3 linked regions of the Homo sapiens genome follow. The protein of the gene in region 1 purifies or fractionates together with the protein of each later gene. This does not show direct contact. Each region holds a gene or a part of one and is shown in the gene's direction. Other genes may lie near its edges. The genes, in order: ATP9A, ADGRG5 and VIPR1.

Region 1 (3,646 bases):
GGGGTCCAGCTCACCTGCTGGGGTCCCCCACCCCGTGTGGTGGGGATCGGGTGTGGCCCTTCCACTCTTGGCACTGGCCAGTCAGCCTGGCCTCTCCTCACCCTAAGCAGTGACTGCATCTGCTGGTGTGTCCCAGGCCCGCTACGTCCAGGCCAAGCTGAGTGTGCACGACCGCTCCCTCAAAGTGGCCACGGTGATCGAGAGCCTGGAGATGGAGATGGAACTGCTGTGCCTGACGGGCGTGGAGGACCAGCTGCAGGCAGATGTGCGGCCCACGCTGGAGACCCTGAGGAATGCTGGCATCAAGGTAGGGCGGGCTGCCCGCAGGGAAGGGCACTCCAGGGCAATGCCAGTTATCCCTCAGCAGTGCAGGGAGATCACAGGGGGAAAGGGTGGGAGGAGCAGCAGAGGACACCAGGAGTGCCTTATCTGCAATGGGCCACAGGCACTGTTTCTGCCCCTCCAACTGTGATTTTTTTTTTTTTTTTTTTTTTGAGACGGGGTCTCGCTGTGTCGCCCAGGCTGGAGTGCAGTGGCATGATCTTGGTTAACTGCAACCTCTGCTTCCTGGATTCAAGCAATTCTTGTGCCTCATCCTCCCTAGTAGCTGGGATTACAGGCACGTACCACCACGCCTGGCTAATTTTTATATTTTTGTAGATAGAGGGTTTCACCATGTTGGCCAGGCTGGTTTTGAACTCCTGACCTCAGGTGATCTGTCTGTCTCAGTCTCCGAAGTGCTAGGATTACAGGTGTGAGCCACTGTGCCTGGCCCTCCAGCCCTGATTTTGGAAGACATCTTGTGTAGCGTTTGCCTTTACTGTACCGATGACTCCCCTGACTCCACTGGGCTCCCTGGTGCTCAAGGCCGAGCAGTGTCCAGCGTGCATGGCTGCTGATTAAATTCTAGTTGAGTGATCAGCACGCCGGTCTGTCTGCCGTGTGGCCAAGTGAGTGAGTGACCACCCAGCAGAGTGACCGTCAGCGCCATCACACTGTCGTATTAGCATTTTGCACTCTACCAGTGGCGACCCAAAAAAAAATACTAGGAGTTGAATCTGGAGGGGCCAGCAGAGGGCGCGTGAGGACCTGGTCCTCAGTGGACCAAGGGAGGTGTGAACAACCAAACTCATTGGCCTGGAGCTCCTGGAAACGTGTGCCTGCCACCGGCCTCCACTCAAAAGTGGCTCTCTGCTGCATCCTGGGGCCTGTCCTTTCAGCAGGGCCATGGCAGGAGGACAGGTTAGATGCCAGGCAACATTCAGGCCCACTGGGGACTCCCACCCCTGCGTGCCTGTTTCCTTGTAAACCCAATTCTGTCGCTTGCATTTGGCTCACAGGCCTGGTTCGTCATAAGGAAATCACCAACGGGACCTTGCTTCCGGAAGTCTGGCCGCTGGAGGCCCATTTCTGCTTCATCGTGGGGTCTGCAGTGGGGCCCTGGCCATTCCTAAGACTTCTGGAGTTTCCATTTTCTGCTTCCATCTTTGTCCTGGGGTTTTTCTCCTTCTCAAAACTATGTTAGCCCAAGACGAGATATTTTATTCACAGAGTGTGCATGTGACTTACCATTCTAGTTTCCTGTTAGATGACAGGAGGAGGGGAGTGCCTGGGATGGGGCAGGTTAGTTGGTAATTAAAGTCTAAGATACGATCTTGCACAGGAAATTTTCTTTTCTTTTCTTTCTTTCTTTCTTTTTTTTTTTTTTTTTGAGACAGAGTTTCACTCTGTCGCCCAGGCTGGAGTGCAGTGGTGCGATCTCGGTTCACTGCAACCTCCACTTCCTGGGTTCAAGAGATTCTCCTGCCTCAGCCTCCCAAGTAGCTGGGATTATAGGTATGTGCCACCATACCTGGATAATTTTGTATATTTAGATATTTAGTAGAGATGGGTTTTCTCCATGTTGGTCAGGCTGGTCTCGAACTCCTGACCTCAAGTGGTCCACCTGCCTCGGCCTCCCAAAGTGTTGGGATTATAGGCGTAAGCCACCGCGCCTGGCTGCACAGGATATTTTCTAAATCAGCCCCTTGTATGGATGTAGAAACTGAGGCTAAGTGAGGCGTCTCCATTCCCCAGGTTCTCACATTGGGAAGCAGCAGAGCCGGGACTGGAGCTGGGGTCTTGGACCCTTCCTGTAGTACCTTGCCTTCATCACAGCATGGGACATTAGCCATGTCGTGCACCTGATCGTTCTTTTCATGCTTTTCTGGAACTTGAACTTCCCAATTCCTTCCCCAGTGTTTGTTCTCTTACCTCAAACCCTGAGAACTATGACTAAACGAAGCTCACCAAAAAGAATATTATTTTTAGGACAGGCGGGATATTGAGGGAAAACAGACCCAGCTAGGGGAGAGGGCCCGGGAGGCTCAGCCCTGAGAGGTGCCCGGTGCCTTCCTTCTGCCCGTCTCACTGCCTGGGTTTCCATCCTACCTCTCCCTTTACTTCTTCTGTGACCCTTGGCAAATGACTGAAGCTCTTAGCGCTTCCATTTCCAGCCTCCAGAAGCTGTCATGAAGGTAACAGAGAGCTCAGCGTGGGTGCTGGGCACGTAGTGGACACTCAGGAGACAATTGTCATGATCTTCTTTCCTATACTTTCCCTCCTATCCAGATTTTCTTTGACCGATAGCCCCAAGACTGCTCCCAGCTGGGAGCAAAGAGAACAAAAGGGTTAATGAGGTAAAATCACAGAGCAGGAAGCACATTCCATGAGGACTCTAAAGACCCGGATTCTGGGCCTGGTTAGGACAAGAGGTAGCTGTGTGGTTTGGGGCAAGTCATCTACCCTCTCTGAGCCCACAGCAGAGAAATGCAGTGTGAGCTAATGCACGATACGGAAGAACCTGACTCATTTACGGTCAGCGTTTTATAAGCTGAGTTAAACCCCAGAAGGGTCTGTCTTGCTCATCCAACTACATAGAAAGTCCACAGCGTCAAAAATGAGTGTTTCCTGTAGGACAGGGAAGTGCCCCCTCACCTGTACAGCCTTTCCCTTCTTTTAGGATATTTATCACTTTAAGAAAAATCCTCAGAAGGGGAATTATGCGGTCCAAGGACCGAGCTTCATAGTACCTCCTGTAGTGTGTGGCCAAATGGCCCTTTCTAGAAGCATCTGCCAGTTTTTGCTGCTACCAGCAGTGGTTGCTTGGAGTCCCAGAGCCCTTCAGCCAGGGCGCTTGCTGTGTTGTGTTGGGGACAGCATGAGTCGGCAGGAGGTAAACGGAACATACCAAGTTCAGCTCCATGTTGTTGGAAACTCAGCTGTTGCAGATGACAGGCCGGCCTCAAAAACTAATAAACAGGACCTCTGTCACGCCATGATTTCAGGTTTGGATGCTGACAGGGGACAAGCTGGAGACAGCTACGTGCACAGCGAAGAATGCACATCTGGTGACCAGAAACCAAGACATCCACGTTTTTCGGCTGGTAAAGTGTCCTCTGCGTTAGGGCCATGTGGGGATGATGTTCGATTTGTCCTATAACCTCCTAACCTTGAGTGGGCCCCTTAAGAAGGGAGGGGCAGCATGTGAATTACCTAGGGTGGGGAGCATCAACCACGGTTGCTTTGGATGGGATGATTAATGACCCAGGCGCCGGCTGGAGAGTTTCTTCCAGTAGTGGTTTGGGAGTACCTCCTTCTAGCCCTG
Region 2 (3,746 bases), on another chromosome or scaffold:
AAGTTACAAAGTCATTTGGCATATGCCCTATGTAAATGGAGAGGATATTTTCTGTCATAGCTGAAGTGTTTCCATTTGATTTATTTTTATTTATTTTGAGATGGAATCTCGCTCTGTCACCCAGGCTAGAGTGCAGTGGTGCGATCTCGGCTCACTGCAACCTCTGCCTCTCGGGTTCAAGTGATTCTCCTGCCTCAGCCTCCCGAGCAGCTGGGATTACAGGCACCTGCCACCACGCCCAGCTAATTTTTGTATTTTTAGTACAGACGGGGTTTCACCATGTTGGCCAGGATGGTCTCCAACTCCTGACCTCAAGTGATTCGCCCACCTCGGCCTCCCAAAGTGCTGAGATTACAGGCATGAGCCACCGCGCCTGGCCTCCATTTGATTTAGTTCTAGGAAGTCCTTACATTTCCCTGTCTCTAAACCCTTTTCTCCTGCCTCAGCATGACATTGTGTCCGACTAAAAGGTGGCATCTGTCTTGAAGGTGTCTTGGGGAGGCAAAGGGCAGAGGCCTCCGGGAGGGCGTGGGACCGGGGCTGGCTTCGGTTAGTTCTCCATGGCTCTCTGCTCAGCCCTCAGTGGGCTCTCCTGCGGCTCTGTGTGCTCTCAGGTTGACACTTGGAGGGTCCCTGTCCACCAAGCCACAGGTTGGCAGCCCGCCCACTCTCCAGCGCAGGCCTTGGTGGCCCCGTCTAGGTGGGGAGTGGCTCCTGGGGAGGGGCGTCCCACTGCAGAGATGGTGATGAGGTGGTGACAACCATGTAGTGGGGTGGAAGGGGAAGTTTCCAGGAAAGAGGGCTCCGGGCCAAGGATCCAATAGAAGATGGGGCATGCCGGCCTTGGGCTGGCCATGGAAGCAGAGAGGAGTGAGATGTGGAAAGGAGAGAGGAAGAATTTTCAGGGGGGTGAAGACATGGGGACGTGAGAGAAACCACTGTGGCTGGAAAGGTGGGCATGAGGGAGCTTCAGATTGTTGACCAAGGAGGCAGATGTGTCCTCTGATGGTGGCCTGGCTGGAAAGCCGGGTGAGGGGTTTCACTGTGTGTTCAGTCAGGCAAGAAACAATAGGGCCTGAGCCAGGAGACCGAGTGGGGCTTCAGGGAGTGATGCTGGCCTCCCCGCGGGCCTGGGAGCCACTGTGAGCCTGACACGTCACCCTCCCCTGCAGATGCTGGGTGCGGAGCCCCGTGGTGCACAGTGTCCTGGTCATGGGCTACGGCGGCCTCACGTCCCTCTTCAACCTGGTGGTGCTGGCCTGGGCGCTGTGGACCCTGCGCAGGCTGCGGGAGCGGGCGGATGCACCAAGTGTCAGGGCCTGCCATGACACTGTCACTGTGCTGGGCCTCACCGTGCTGCTGGGAACCACCTGGGCCTTGGCCTTCTTTTCTTTTGGCGTCTTCCTGCTGCCCCAGCTGTTCCTCTTCACCATCTTAAACTCGCTCTACGGTAGGGCTGGAGGGCGGCCTGGAGGAAGCTACCTGGCAGGGGGTGTATGGCTGGTGGGATGTTCACTGCTAAAGGGGTTCAGGTGAAGGGGGCGAGTGGGGGACTAACATCCAGCCCACAGCTCCACTAGCTAAGCTGGTGGGGGCTACATCTGCATGAAGGTACCCTATGGACTGGCCACAGCAGCTCTTCCAGCTCTGAGGCTCTGCCCCTCTGGCCTCCTACAGTAAGAGATTCTGGGAGTTGCCCATGGGCCCCAGGGAGGCCAGCTCGCTGCAGCCAAGGAGACCCTGGCCTTTGGGGAAGCCCATGCTGCCCCGTGGAACTCCCGCCTTTCTCTTGCAGGTTTCTTCCTTTTCCTGTGGTTCTGCTCCCAGCGGTGCCGCTCAGAAGCAGAGGCCAAGGCACAGATAGAGGCCTTCAGCTCCTCCCAAACAACACAGTAGTCCGGGCCTCCTGGCCTGGAATCCTCAGCCTCTCTGGCCGCCAGTAGCCTGAGGCTACGGCTCCTGCTAGAGAGGGTGGCAGGCCTGCTGCTGGACCCCAGAGGCCACTGTGACCGCCAAGGGGCCTTTTCCACTTCCACGGCCTCTCCAGGCACTGAGGGGAAGGCATTGCTCTACCTCTCCCTGACATTTTGCTCCGGGGCAGATCCAACCTTACCTGGGGCAGCAAACTTTGTCCTGGTACCTGGGCCCAGCTCGCCAGGGATGTGGGCAGAGCACCAGCCTGGGCATCAGGAAGCCAAGTTTCAAGGACTGTCTTTGAGTCTGTCTGTATGACCTTGGGCCTGCCACTTCTCACAGACCCTAGGTATCCACAGCTGTGACATGGGGGCAAGCGGCTTTGTTTCAGCCTAACCCAGGAGCTTAGTAAAAATTGCATAAGACCAGGGGGAAGAGTGTCAGCGTGGGGTGGGAATTCCCGCGGCCTCCACCTGCTTGCTAGGGGCAGGATCTCATTCAGGCTGCCCTGGAAGCACCTGCTTGGCCCTGCCACCTTCCTCCAGGGGAGGGCCAGATGGCATCCTGGCTTGGGGCGGGTGGGACCTACCCAGGCTCTGAGACTTTACTGGCCTATGCCTGAGGCCTCTTTTCCTTTAACTCCCTAAATTATGATGACTCCAAGTCCAAGCCCACCCTTCCCAAAGATTGGGAGGTTCCGCCGTTCCCAGAGGCTCCTCCTGCGGTGCTCCCAAGACTTCCATAGACCATCTGGACCAGTAGCCCATCCCGCAGTTTTCTTGGGGGCAGAGGAAAACGCTTCTTTCTCCTCCAGCTGAATCAGCTGGATCCCAGTGTCCTGGCTGTTTGGTGATTGGGCAAGATTGAATTTGCCCAGGTAGGCGTGAGAGTGTGGGTTTTAAATTCGAAGCTCAGGCCATAGTTTCAGAGAATCACCCTTACCCCAGACCTTCATGAGACAGTGCTCATGAAGCCAGTGCGTTTCCCAGAACGAACACTAGGCGGCACCGTTGGTCCACACTCAGAGGCCCTTGGCGCCAAGACTGCATCTAGAATCGCTCAAACACCTGTTTGCAGACCCCATGCACCAGCTGGAGGGGCCGTAACTGCAGGACTGCGCCTACTGAGTGACCCATTTCCTCCAGGAGGAAAGGCAAGACACGCTTACACGGCCATTTGTCTCTTTTCCCAATGCGGCGGTGCACTTTCGCTCTTGGGGGCTGCACCCCAGACATAGCTGGCACCAGAGCAGGGTGCTCAGGTGGTGGGTGCTCAGGGCCCTGCCCCAGGCCACTGGGCCGTTTTGATGACCTCGAAGGTCACAGGCAGAAAATAGGAGCAGGATTTCCCCTGGGGAAAAGTTCTCCTGGGACATCTTCTGCTCTTCTGTACATTTCTAGATGCAAATAACTCCTTCACCAGGCAGTGAGTGGCGTAGGCTCTGGAGCCAGGCTGCCTGGGCTCCAATGCCAGCTCTGCCACTTGCTAGCTGTGAGACTGTGGACAAACCACTCAGCCTCTGTGTGCCTCAGTTTTCCTATTTGTAAAATAGAGGCCATAGTGGTACCTATTTTGAAGACTAAGTAAAAGAATTCAAATAAAGAGACTTGGCACAGAGTAAGTGCTCAGTAAATGGTTACTGGTATTATCATTAGTATTTTTGCTATTATTGTTAACAGTGTTAACTGAGTTTCAGAGGCCAGCCTGTCTAAGCCCCAGGCCCAGCTCTGCTCAACCTTGTAGGCACAACCCCTTCTTAGGCACATCTCACCATGCCTCAGTTTCTTTCCCCAGACGGGTCTCTACTCCCACCTCGCTGACTTTCTGCTGTT
Region 3 (3,646 bases), on another chromosome or scaffold:
CAGCTACCTTCAATACAAATTGGCATTAGATGAATGAGTGGGTGGGGTGGGAGTGTGGATGGGCAGGTTGGTGGATGGCTAAGTAGGCAGCAGGATAAATGGGTTAAGTAAGGAAGATTGGACAGATGATAGGCAGAGGGGCAGGTAGGTAGATATGTGGGTGGATGCACAAGTGGATTGATGGGTGGGTGCAGAGATGAATGGATGGGTAGATGACTGAGTGGGTTGGTAGAAGAATGGAGAGATAGGTGTGTGGGTGGATGGATTGATAGATGGGAAGATGATAGATGATGGATGGACACATGGATAAAAAATGGATAAATGAGTGAGTTGATAGTGAATGTCTAGTGGGTGAGTGGGTAAATAAATGGATACATGGATAGGTGGGTAGATGATTGAATGGGCAGATGGGTAGATATATAGATGGGAAGGTGAATAGATGAATTGATGGATGGATAATTAAAATCACCAGTTTATCCCGAAGTATCAGAGGATCTAAAATTAGGGAAAATGGGAAAACCAATGAGTACATTTTTAAGGGGATAATGCAAAACAACAAAGAGATTAAGTTGGCTGCACTGCAACTGTGTTTGTCCCCCCAGACACGAGTGTGGGCAGTCAAGGACCCTTGACAGCCCCAGTGAACCCCGTCTTTTCTCCTCCCCCTGCAGGTGGGCTGTAAGGCAGCCATGGTCTTTTTCCAATATTGTGTCATGGCTAACTTCTTCTGGCTGCTGGTGGAGGGCCTCTACCTGTACACCCTGCTTGCCGTCTCCTTCTTCTCTGAGCGGAAGTACTTCTGGGGGTACATACTCATCGGCTGGGGTATGGTACCAGGGAGGGCTTCCAGGCTGGGGACAGAGGGGGCAAGGCCTGGAGAACTCCCTAGGGGGAGGGTGCCAACCCAGCTTGCAGTCCTACGTCTTGCTTAGCTGCAGGTCCTGCCTGCAAGGATATCAGCCAAGGGTCAAGAAAGTCCTCAAAATGTCTGATCCCAGGACAAGTCCCTCAGGTTGCAGCTGCACCTAGGGCTGACCTGTGGGACAGATTTTGTGAACATCTTTCCATTTCCCTTTAGTTCCCGAAATACACAGGGCCACTGCTAATCTATAAAGGGCCTCTGTCACAATTAGAAAGAGAATGTCCGTCTAGGTAGACACAGCCCTTCAGGCATACAGCTTCACCCCCTCAGTGGAGCATCCCTCCGTGGTGAACAACCTATGCAACCAAAGACAGCAGACTGACAACCCACCCTTTTCTCTCTCCCTCCCTCTCCCTGCTTTTCTCCAAAATCTCTCCCTCATGCCCTCTACCCCTGCTTCCTGTGCCCTCTCTGCTCTTTCACTCTCCCTGGGCCTGACAGGGGTACCCAGCACATTCACCATGGTGTGGACCATCGCCAGGATCCATTTTGAGGATTATGGGTGAGCTGCTGCCCCACACACTCCCCCGGCCGCCATCACTTGGGCAGGCCCCCTGGGTGGGATGATAATGCCATCTGGCCTTGGTGAGTGGACAAAAACCACAGCTCTCGGGCCAGAGGGGAGGCTGGAGGAGGACCTGGGGAGCAACAGACTCTGGGCCCGGGGTTGCTAAAGTGCTCAGGAGCAGAGCTGGGGACAACTGGGGGAGGTGCTGCTGAGTCTCTCTCTGGCTGAGGACAATCCCTCTCATTCCTCCCCACGGTCTGCTCAGGTGCTGGGACACCATCAACTCCTCACTGTGGTGGATCATAAAGGGCCCCATCCTCACCTCCATCTTGGTAAGATACCCTCCCACCACCTAGAGATGGGGAAACAGGCCCAAAGGGCAGGCAACTTAGCCCAAGGTCACATGGGAAATTAGTATCTAGGTCAGAACTGAAACGTAGCTTCCTAATGCCCAATGCAGGATCATCCCCACCCCTGTCCTACCAGTTCTTCCTTGAGCGTAAGCGGATTGGGAGCACAGTCCTTAGGGATTTGAAGGAGGTAGAGTTCCCGGATGACCTGCCCAAAGGGGAAATGCCAGAGGAGAGGTAAGATAGAGAGAGGGGCAGCAGGACCCTGGGAAAGAAGACAGGCCAGCAGTCAAGGGGCCTGAACACCTCAGCCTTCCCGCTCTGACTGCCCGAACTCGGGTCCCCACCCACTAGGTAAACTTCATCCTGTTTATTTGCATCATCCGAATCCTGCTTCAGAAACTGCGGCCCCCAGATATCAGGAAGAGTGACAGCAGTCCATACTCGTGAGTGTGGGCCTAGTGCCTCAGCCCCCAGTACCTCCATCCCCAGTCCTCAAATCATCCCACATCTCCTTGAAGTCCTCCCACCCCAAACATCCAGAGTCACCAAAGAGCCACATTGTTCTTTCCCACCTCCACCATGGCCTGGCTCAGCCCACCACCATCCCCTGCTCCAGCCCCACCCTCACCAGGCTGCACTCAGAGCCCTGCATGCTTCTCCTGCCCACACTCACCTAGCATCCTTCCCAGGTATGCATCTGCTGCCAAGCCAGGGAGCTCAAGAGGACACCGATGACCTGTGTCTTGTTCATACCATGTGCCCAGTCCCTGGCATGTGCCTCACATGGAAAAAGGGTGCAATAAACACATAGTAGATGAATGCCCTGGGGGAGACCCCAGTCCACCAATGAGACAGCCATGTTCGGGACTCAGTATTCCTCAGTAATAATGATGACACCTGCAGTTTACATGCCAGGCACACGCTAAGGGATTTCCATGCATCATGTCATTTCATCCACACAGTCCCCTGCAAAATTATCTTTACTTTACAGGGAGGAAATGACATACACTCCCTTCTCCTTGAGGGTTTTGGAGCAGGTCACCATGGGCAGGGAGAAGGGGGCACAATGTCCATGGACCAGGGCTTGGAAAGGTGTCAGGACTGTTCCCCCTGCTTGGGAGGACTGGAGGAAGAGGCAGGTTTTTTTGCGGGAGCAACAAGGCTTGAAGACAGAGCTAAAGAAACATGAAAAATATGAAAAGGGAGGCTGTGGGAAGGCAAGTAGGGTCTGCATGCTCACAGATGGGAGTAGGAGATTGAGTATCAGTGCTATTGACACAAGACAAACCTGGGACGTCCCACAAGGCCTTCCAGTCCTGGGATTCTTCTTGGCCTGGCTTCTCTTTGGAGAGTCTGTGCTGTGGTTCTAAGATTCCTGGCTAGAATGTCACAGACTGCTGGATTTAGGATTCTATTCTGGAATCCTGTGATTCTCCCTGATGAGACTAAGACTCACATTCCTGGTGTGACTGCATTCTCTCCTGCCAGGTGTGTAGGCGGAGCTTCCCTTCCTGTCTGAGAAGGAAAGGCTGGGGGGGACGGGGGGGGCATCTGCAGTCTGCTGAGGGGCAGCACATCGGGCCTGTGCACCCTTATCCTCTCCTTTGCCGATGGGACCTTATTTCCCCCAACTTACAATGGTTCAAAAGGGCCTGAATCTGAGGCAAACAGAGCTGGCCATGGTCAGGGCCAGGTCTGTGTGGTGAGACAGAAAGGAAACAGTTGTCAGCAGGCAAAAGGGGTGGGGGCAGTTGGAGATGAAGCTCCTCAAGGAGAAGCTGTCAGCTCCCACTCTACACCTCCCCATAAGCCTTTGATTTAAAGAAAGCCTCCATCTGTTAGCCTCCGGTGTGTGGGATAGTT

What was found.
Region 2: the proteins of ATP9A (region 1) and ADGRG5 purify together in Homo sapiens (co-immunoprecipitation; one large-scale study listed by IntAct). This does not show direct contact.
Region 3: the proteins of ATP9A (region 1) and VIPR1 purify together in Homo sapiens (co-immunoprecipitation; one large-scale study listed by IntAct). This does not show direct contact.

What each region holds. Positions count from the first base shown.
Region 1 is NC_000020.11:51,621,853-51,625,498, reverse strand, and holds part of ATP9A (probable phospholipid-transporting ATPase IIA), read left to right. Parts: intron 1-136; coding exon 137-307; intron 308-3,326; coding exon 3,327-3,425; intron 3,426-3,646. UniProt on the Homo sapiens protein: Plays a role in regulating membrane trafficking of cargo proteins, namely endosome to plasma membrane recycling, probably acting through RAB5 and RAB11 activation. Also involved in endosome to trans-Golgi network retrograde transport.
Region 2 is NC_000016.10:57,573,643-57,577,388, forward strand, and holds the end of ADGRG5 (adhesion G-protein coupled receptor G5 isoform 1 precursor), read left to right. Parts: intron 1-1,172; coding exon 1,173-1,450; intron 1,451-1,795; coding exon 1,796-1,896; 3' UTR 1,897-3,547; downstream 3,548-3,746. UniProt on the Homo sapiens protein: Orphan adhesion G-protein coupled receptor (aGPCR). Ligand binding causes a conformation change that triggers signaling via guanine nucleotide-binding proteins (G proteins) and modulates the activity of downstream effectors, such as adenylate cyclase.
Region 3 is NC_000003.12:42,530,108-42,533,753, forward strand, and holds part of VIPR1 (vasoactive intestinal polypeptide receptor 1 isoform 1 precursor), read left to right. Parts: intron 1-671; coding exon 672-825; exon of another isoform or gene 826-851; intron 852-1,363; coding exon 1,364-1,424; intron 1,425-1,695; coding exon 1,696-1,762; intron 1,763-1,913; exon of another isoform or gene 1,914-1,988; intron 1,989-2,134; coding exon 2,135-2,226; intron 2,227-2,456; exon of another isoform or gene 2,457-2,472; coding exon of another isoform or gene 2,473-2,518; exon of another isoform or gene 2,519-2,635; intron 2,636-3,646. UniProt on the Homo sapiens protein: G protein-coupled receptor activated by the neuropeptides vasoactive intestinal peptide (VIP) and pituitary adenylate cyclase-activating polypeptide (ADCYAP1/PACAP).